Regions from separate parts of the Homo sapiens genome. Here region 2 is reported to be linked to region 1. Evidence: microRNA targets listed by miRTarBase, many of them from high-throughput screens and not tested one by one. Region 1 holds a microRNA gene; the other region holds the end of a gene's coding sequence.

Region 1 (4,350 bases):
TGTTCTCTGCTGTGCCTGTCAGGCAGTCGTTGCCCTGTGGTTATTTGTGGAGGGATTGACGGTGCGCTGAGCTTCAGACTTTGTCTGAACAGCTTCGTGGCAGCAAGGAAGGGAGAAGGGAACAGATCCAAGCCGATCTTTGGGAGGAGAGAACCAGCATGACTTGGAGACTTTAGATGTCAGAGCAAAGGACAGGGTGCAGCTTGGTGACCCGGAGTGGGTGGGTGGGTGAATGGATGGATAGATAGTGGGGATGTGGTCTGCCATCACTGCCCTCTTCCCTGTGTGGGAAGCCAGCTCTTGGTGACTTCCTGCCGAGACCCACTCCCTCTGGCCCTGTCCGAGGGTGTCAAGTGTGCCCTTGACCCTTCACCCTGGGCTAAGGGATGTCCAAGGAGTTGGGGACAAAGGCAGCTAGGAGGAGGAGCTACCTCCCGAGTCTGCTGCAGTAAGTCACCAGTGTGTTCCTGTGGGTGGAGGCTGGCAGGCCCATCAGTCTGGTTTGGGTACCCGTTGGATTTGGGTTTGATGACATGTAAAGTGAGTTAGAGTCTCTGCATTACTGTCACACCTGCTGTGCCCAGGCATGGAAGATTAAGTGGAACAGAGGGGCCGCCCCCCTGCTGAAGGGGCCCCAGAGTCGGCGCTAGGGGAGGGGGCAGCCTCGGTGGTCCAGGCAGGCATAGGCGGAATTCTCTGAGGTGGCATTGGAGTCCAGTGGTCAGAGGTGCTAAAAGGCCCCAAACCTAGAGCCCATGCCCAGGGCCCCACTGACACCTGGTGGGCAGGGGCAGCCTGGTGACCCCACATGACATGGGTGGGCGTGACGCAGCACCAGCTGGGCCGACAGCCCTCCCCCTGCTGGTTTTTAATGCTCTGCAGTAATGTCATTTGGCCTGCGAATAAGCTTTCACACATTTTATATTAAATCTACAAGTATGATTTATTCAGGCACTTACGAATTTAATCAAATTTGTTTCTAAATATTACTGATTTTTGTTATCAAATGTGCCATCAGCTGTTGAGCTTTGAGAATTGAGCATCCTGGCTTTTGCCATTTTGAGGATCAGCAGAAGCATGTCTGGAAGAAATGTGAGAAAATAAAACTCAGGAGCCTACCCCCACCCTGCCCTTCCAGGAGCTCAGCCCCAGAGCCAGGCTGCTAAGGCCATGGAGGCTGAGGGCAGTGGAGCTGGGGTTTCTGGAGCCTCAGGGGCCCTGGTTTGCTGGAAGGGCAGGCAGGGCTTCATGGAGGGCATTAGGCAGTGGCCAGAGCCCTGCAGTGCTGGGCATGGGCTTCTCGTGGGCTCTGGCCACGGCCCTGAGCTCCTCCCCTTACCTTCCCAGAGCGGAGGGTCACCTGCTGAGCTGGGCACGGGCTTCTCGTGGGCTCTGGCCACGGCCCTGAGCTCCTCCCCTTGCCTTCCCAGAGCGGAGGGTCACCTGCTGACAGTTTGGGGCGGCTCTGTCTTTGAGAGCATGCCCTCATGAAGGCAGAATGTCCTCCCTGCCTCCATCCTCTGTGGCCCGGTGGCTCCTGCAGTGCCTGCCCTCAGAGGCTGGTGGCCTGGGACACAGGGATGAGGATGGGCTTGGTGGTGCTGCAGGTCACAGTGGGTCATGAAGGAGCTTTGGGGGTGTTGCATTCTCTGGTAAAGCACAGCAAGGGAGCCCTTTTACCCACTACTAAAACCTGGCTCTGCACTGAGGCCATGCGCAGCCCAGTCAGGTGGACGAGGGGGTAACGACTGGACCGTGGGGAGGCATCAGAGGAGGAGCTGCTGAGAGGCGGGTCACCACAGCCTGGTGCCTGTCTGGAGAGGGTGGGGCTGGGGGAGGTGCTGGCCAGGTCCATGGGGGTGGCCAGGCTGGGTCTGAAAGGGCCTTGCGCTGGTGTGGGGTGAGCTTGGTCTGTTGGGAGAGTATGCAGTTCATTGGGGCCTCCCTGGCTCCAGGTTTGCATGTCTGAGGAGTGGGTATCATCAGGGCCTGGGGCCTCTCCAGTGGGCATGTCTGAACTCTCCCAGGGTTGGGAGCCTGTGCTCATCACAAGCTCAAAGCACTCCATTTCTGCTACCATGAAGTCAAGGATGGTGACTGTGAGCCGCCTGGGACCTGAGCTGCCTGGGACTGTGACTGAGGCACCCGGGGTGCCTCTTAGGGCCTTGGGTTTGGGCCCATGGCTAGATGAGCCTTGGTGATTCTGTGGTATTGCCTGGGCCAGGTGGACCCAGGGGCAGCTGCGGCTAGTCCATTTGGAGCTCCTTCAAGCCGAAGCATCCAACACCAGTGTCTGTGAGGTGTGGGCCCGGCCCCAGGAGCGGGGCCTGGGCAGCCCCGTGTGTTGAGGAAGGAAGGCAGGGCCCCCGCTCCCCGGGCCTGACCCCACTGCTTCAGCCCCCTCCTGCCTGCCTACAGCCTGGCCTCGAGGGCCCATCAGGTGAGGGGACCCCACCTGCACCACCCCGTCCTACCTCCTGGAGGAGGCCTTGCCCCTGACAGGCAGCCTCCAGCCCTCCCACCCTGATCCCTGTGTGGGATGGCCAGAGCATGCCCAGCATGCTGGGGTTCGGCGGTGGGGGGCATCTGGAGGGAGGGACATGTCAGTTCGGGGAGGGATGAGCAGCCTAAGTGACTGCAGTGCTGGGCCATCTCCTGCATGGTGGAGCTCCCCTCGAGCCGCCTGTCTGCAGGGGGCTCTGGCCAGTAGTGCAGCCGGGCAGGGTCTGTACGGCACAGGCTGCACCAGCCTCCATGCAGACCAGTCTGTGTGGGAGTGGGGGTCTCAGAGGGCCCAGCCGGCCTATGCCATGAGCATGGTGCTGGCCCAGAGGGGGAGCTGAACAGCAGCTGGGTCGGTGCGTTACCTGGTGGGGCAGCAGACAGCAGCTGCCCTGGCTGGGGTTCAAGCCCCGGGCTGGCCTGGTGGAATCCCCTCTCCGTCACCCCCAGGTTCTGTTCTTGCAGGTGTCAGGCCTGGGGCCTTGAGACAGACCTGCAGTCTCCACCACAGCCACAGTGGGTGGGGTCTGGGTCCTCACGGAGGTGATCCTCCACCCCCACACCTACCTTGTGCATGGCAGTGGTGTCTCCTGGAGCTGGTGAGACCCCACCTCACTCAGGAAACCCCCCAGACGCCCCCAGGCAGAAGTGGCCATACTCCAGGGCCTGCATCCCTGTGCCCCACAGTGCGCCCTGGCCGGTTGGTTGTAGGAACTCAGAAAAGCAAAGCAAACAGGATGGTTCCCTGCTGGACACATTACATTCCCTGCTGGACACATTTCTATTGCAGATCTTTAGTCCAGGATTCCAGGGTAGCCAAGGTCACCTGAGTCCTGGGGACTCTGGGCCTGGTCTCTGAAAGCAGCCAGTAAGACAGAGATGGGAAACCCAGCAAGATGGAGTGAGCCAAGGGCACAGTTGGGTCCAGGCGCAGCAGGGAGCTGCCTGGGGGTGACACACACTTGACGGAGGCCACTGCACACACCCTACCCCGGCCTGAACTTGAGCACTTCCTTTTTTTTTTTTTTTTTAGATGGAGTCTCACTGTAGTCCAGATGGAGTGCAATGGCGTGATCTCGGCTCACTGCAAGCTCCGCCTCCCCGGTTCACGCCATTCTCTTGCCTCAGCCTCCTGAGTAGCTGGGACTACAGGTGCCCGCCACCACACCCGGCTAATTTTTTTGTATTTTTAGTAGAGACGGGGTTTCACCGTGTTAGCCAGGATGGTCTTGATTTTTCGACTTCATGATCCGCCTGCCTCGGCCTCCCAAAGTGCTGGGATTACAGGCGTGAGCCACCATGCCCGGCCAAGCACTTCCTTGAACACAGAGGTGACCATGAGGAGGGAGGCGTGAACCAGGATGACGGGGCAGCAGATGGAGCCTGCCTCCCTGAGACCTCAGGTGACCGAGTGCTGGACTGCCTCCTCCTGCCTACATGGCTGAGAAATAAACTTCTTTTTCAAACCACTGTGACCTGGGGTTTTCTGATACCCTCAGCAAGCCTGTTCCTGTGGCCTGGTGTGGGTCCCCTGACCTGTGGCCTGGGCTGCCTGTATCCGGCCTGCCCCTCTGCTCCGCTGTAAACCTGTGATGGCAGTGGAGGGGCTTGGCCTGGGCCCGCCCCACCGCGAGGTCTTCCCCTCTCCGAGTTCTGGGTGTGGTTTCAGTTGAGCCACGCCGTTGGACTGGGCCGGCCTGGAGGACAGAAGGCACAGGCTCTTCCACATACCTGGCTCGTGGCCCATGGGCCGTCTGCTCACGGGAGCCCTGCACCAGGCCATGCAGAGCAGTGAAGTCAAAACCTCGTTTCCCAGGTCTAAGGTGAACTGGGAGCAGGGCAGGAGTT
Region 2 (4,350 bases), not on the chromosome of region 1:
ATAAAGTAGTTTAGCCATTAATAATTATACTCCTGTTTCTGAGTCAGGCTCAAAAGTCAATGAAAGATGAGCTGTGGTTTCTAATATTATTACAACCTTCGGAGAGATAGATCAGTGAGCAGTAGCCTTGCATTTGATGGACAAAGGTGAGGGTAAGATCAGGTCACTTGTTGGGCTTTTATCATTGCAACAATCTTCCTGCTCCCTGCATCCAACTCTTTTCATTTGCCCTGGCTGGGAAGAAGCATTGGCAAGGATTTACATAGAAAAATAATGCCCGAAGAGCAATCACAATACCCATATCTCTTACTAGCCGCAGACATCACAGCTGGAGAATGCCATGCCAAGATCAAGCATGGGAGAGCAATGGGGTCCCCTTTCTATTTTTCTTTTTTTGAGACAGGGTCTCACTGTGTCACCCAGACTGGAGTGCAGTGGCACGATCTCAGCTCACCACAACCTCTGCCTCCCAGGCTCAAGCGATTCTTCTGCCTTAGCCTCCCTAGTAGCTGGGATCACAGGCATATGCAACCACCACCAGGCTTATTTTTGTATTTTTAGTAGAGACAGGGTTTCACCACGTTGGTCAGGCTAGTCTCAAACTCCTGACCTCAAGTGATCCACCTGCCTCGGCATCCCAAAGTGCTGAGATTACAGGCGTGAGCTACCACGCCCGGCTCCCCATTCTATTTTTGTTCTCCATACTCATCAGATAGGCTTTTTGTTTTTGGTGGTGGTGGTGGGGGGGTGTACCTTGAGTCACCTCGGGAGGACTGAGAAGACTACTCTGGATGGTAGACATTTTATAACAGATACCTAATTCCAGGGAGGTCAAGTCTCAGAGCAGAAGGATGAATGACATTAAGCTAGTGGGAGGGGTAAAAGGAGGTTATTCTAAATACAGGGAACATCATGTAAAAAGCTCAGGGTAATAACATCAAAAAAATAAAATCATAATAAATAAAACAAATCTTCTACACAGAAAATTACAAAATGTTTCTGAGTAATTAAAGGAGACCTAAACACATGCAAAGATATCTTCATAGATTATAAGATTCAATCTTGTTAAGACATTCATTTTCCTCAAATTGATCTAAAGAGAACAGGCAATATCAAAAATCCCAGCAAGCTTTTTTGGTAAAATTTTAAAAAGAAATTGATAAGTCAATTCTACGATTTATCTGGGGATACAATGGATCCAGACAGCCAAAATAATCTAGAGAATGAAAAATAAAATTGGGAGACAAACTACCTGATTTCCAGATTTACTATAAAGCTACAGCAATCAAAACAAACAGATTAATGGAAAAGACTAGAGAATTCAGAAATAGAACCATACATATAGATGAACTGATTTTCAACTGAGGTGCCAAGGCAGTTCAATGAAGAGAGGAAGGGATTTTTATTTAATGATGCTGAAACAACTATATATTCCTCAAAACCTACCTGCCTTTATATGTGAGTTTGATTTGAGATCGATCATAGACCTAAATGTAATAAGCTAGGATCATAAAGTTTCTACAAAAAAAATCTTAGGAGAAATCTTATAACCTCAGAGTTCGTAAAATTTATTAGAAAGAACACAGAAAATATTAATCATTAAAGTAAAAGGGTAAGTTAAATCTTCATCACAAGTAAAACATTCATTATGAAAATAAGTAGGTAAGCCACAGACTGGAAAAAATATTCTCAATGTGTTTACCTGACAATATTTAAGGGGAATATTCTATATCTGATTCCAGTGATGGTTACATGTATATATACAGTTGTCAAAACATCTCAAATGAATACTTAAAAATCTGTTATTGTATTGTATATAAATTAAACCTCACTTAAAAGAAGAAAGTCCACAATAAAAGAGCATGTTGTTTTCTATAGGCACAAATGACTAAAATACTCAGGGCTAATGATTAATTCTTTTTAAAAATTTTATCCCAGAAAACACGATTCCAATATGTCTCCCACCCCCACCCATACTGCCCTGTAAAATATTCCTATATTTTAATCCATAGTGATGATCAATGATAGTGCTTTCTCCTCATGATACATGTTACACAGGGGTTGAAAACATTAAAATAAATCTCAAATGGAATAAATTGGGACATGTAAAATTTAAAGAATTAGCAGCATTGAGAAAGGATGCATCATTTGTCTTTTAAAATGTTGGCTGGCAGAAAAAGAATTTAGGTAAGCTTCCATATTCTGCACTCCTCACACCACTAATAAGTTTTACCCAGAAATATATAAATAAAAATGATTGACATCTGAATAACAAATCCTGTGACAACACATTGTAGTATTCCATAAAGAACATGGCCAGGTGAGGTGGCTCACGCCTGTAATTTCAGCACTTTGGGAGGCTGAGGCGGGTAGATCACCTGAGGTCAGGAGTTCGAAACCAGCCTGGCCAACATGGAGAAACCCCATCTCTACTAAAATTACAAACAAAATTAGCCGGGCATGGTGGCAGGTGCCTATAATCCTAGCTACTCGGGAGGCTGAGGCAGGAGAATGCAGAGGTTGTGGTGAGCCAAGATCGAGCCACTGAATTCCAGCCTGGGCAACAAGAGTGAAACTCTGTCTCAAAAAAAAAAAAAAAAAAAAGCTTAACTAATTCTTTAATCTTTTTCTTCTAGATGATCTACTTCCATAGGCAAAACATTATGTCTTTTGCAACTCATCTTTGAATTGAAAAGAAACTAGGCCAAGGTCTTGAAAATACTGGATCCTCAATAATTACTTATAAACTTAAATGTATTAATCAATGTACTTATTGTTAAAATGTATGTCCAAATTCCACATTCCCGTAATAGGAAATTTATGGCAATTATTTAATAATTTGAACCAGTGACAATCTCATTTGGTAATTTATGGGAAATTTATTTATTTATTTATTTGTTTATTAATTCATTCATTGATTTATTTTGAGTCTGGGTCTCATTTTCCCAGGCAGGAGTGCAGTGGCGCTATCAAGGCTCACTGCAGCCTTGACTTCCTGGGCTCAAGTGATCCTCCCACCTCATTTTTTGGATTTTTTTGTAGTGCAGGCTGGTCTCGATATCCTGGGCTCAAATGATCCTCCCACCTTGGCCTCTCAAAGTGCTGGGATTATAGGCATGAGCCACCATGCCTGGCAGAAATATATTTAAAAGGAGTATATTAAATGCTATACAAGTTCAACTAACCCCAGCTTAAAAATAACTGTACTATAATTACCTGACTAGATTTTTTTAAAGTGATAGAAAAAGTACAATTGTTAAAAATATAAAAAACAAAAAACTCCACTGAGTCTACTTTCAGTTCCCATGTGAATATCTAAATAAGTATAAAATAAAGGCTGTAAGTGCGCTGTTTTGAATTAAACATCACATTGGCAAGATCAGAGGAGCTTGTGAAGTGAGAAGGAAATTGTTATTCCTGTGATGGAACCTCCACTAGTATTATTCTTTTGGCAGCTGAGACTTCAGGGGATTCTCACTATAAAAACCAGCAGTCCTTTAATCACACATTGTAAAGCATTTGTGATGCTTTGCAGGGAGCCTTTACTTCCAAGATTTCCCTGTTGCTTTCCTTCCTGAGCACAATAGGTTCAAGATGGCTAATGCTGTTTCCTAGTTATGCCAAGAACCTCCTGAATGCCACTGGGCATCCAACGTGAAGACGGATGGCAAAATATCAAATGTGAATATCTCATTTTAAATGGGGACTCCCACAATCATGTTATTTTTGGGAGAGCAGCTCTCTGGCTCCATGGATATCACTTGAACGGAGTATCCACATTCTTCTGCAGCTCTTGCTCGATCCAGATCCACCAAGCACATGCACTGTTTTCCTGAAACACAGTCAAATGGTATCATGAGACACCCTTTCACTAGCAGGACAGTTTCAGTTTGTTTAAGGGAATCTATATAGTGACAAAATCTGCAAGTACTATGGAGCATGCTTTGTACCCCTAAGTCTTGTTTAGTTTCTTTCAATTTACTTCTTGATCAATGTGGAAAGATGATGGTGACAAAAACATGGCACTTCATATATTTGCCTCTGCTAATAATTTAAAGAATGTTAACCTTTTCAGATGTATTTATAAGCAAATCTCAAATTAGAGCCTCAGACTGTATTTCCTACTTTGGTTAAAAATACATTTAAAGACCTTTTCTCTGCTTTCCCTATAAAACTAGATTATCTGTAATGTGGAAAAAAAATTTGTCTTTAAGAATATTTAAAATAACATGCTGATTAAGTGGTGTCTGAAAGACATTAGCTTTTCCAGCTGAAGTTTTTTAGGGCTATGAAGAAGTGAGAAATGAAAAATATTTAAGAAAATTCTCAATTACATGCCTTTTATTTCAG

What was found. Region 1 holds the annotated microRNA hsa-miR-940 (AAGGCAGGGCCCCCGCUCCCC, at 2,355-2,375, shown strand). A microRNA usually pairs through its seed, bases 2 to 8, with sites in the 3' UTR of a target mRNA and lowers its output. Matches are read on the target gene's strand: a 7mer-m8 pairs with bases 2 to 8, a 7mer-A1 pairs with bases 2 to 7 and ends in A, and an 8mer does both.
Region 2: miRTarBase lists GSTCD as a target of hsa-miR-940. Seed matches in the 3' UTR shown: 7mer-m8 at 2,948-2,954 and 7mer-m8 at 2,502-2,508.

The regions. Positions count from the first base shown.
Region 1 is chr16:2,269,452-2,273,801 of GRCh38, forward strand. MIR940 (microRNA 940) reads left to right here and starts at 2,296; the gene lies at 2,296-2,389. It overlaps MIR3677HG (MIR3677 and MIR940 host gene), which reads left to right. Exons shown (of 3, transcript NR_132988.1): 2 at 2,225-2,440; 3 at 3,536-3,621. It overlaps MIR3677 (microRNA 3677), which reads left to right and starts at 1,262; the gene lies at 1,262-1,321.
Region 2 is chr4:105,844,923-105,849,272 of GRCh38, reverse strand. It overlaps GSTCD (glutathione S-transferase C-terminal domain containing), which reads right to left. Exons shown (of 12, transcript NM_001370181.1): 12 at 1,548-3,832. The coding sequence ends at 3,696. Among named protein-coding and RNA genes, the nearest start is that of GSTCD-AS1, 20 kb to the right of the region's middle.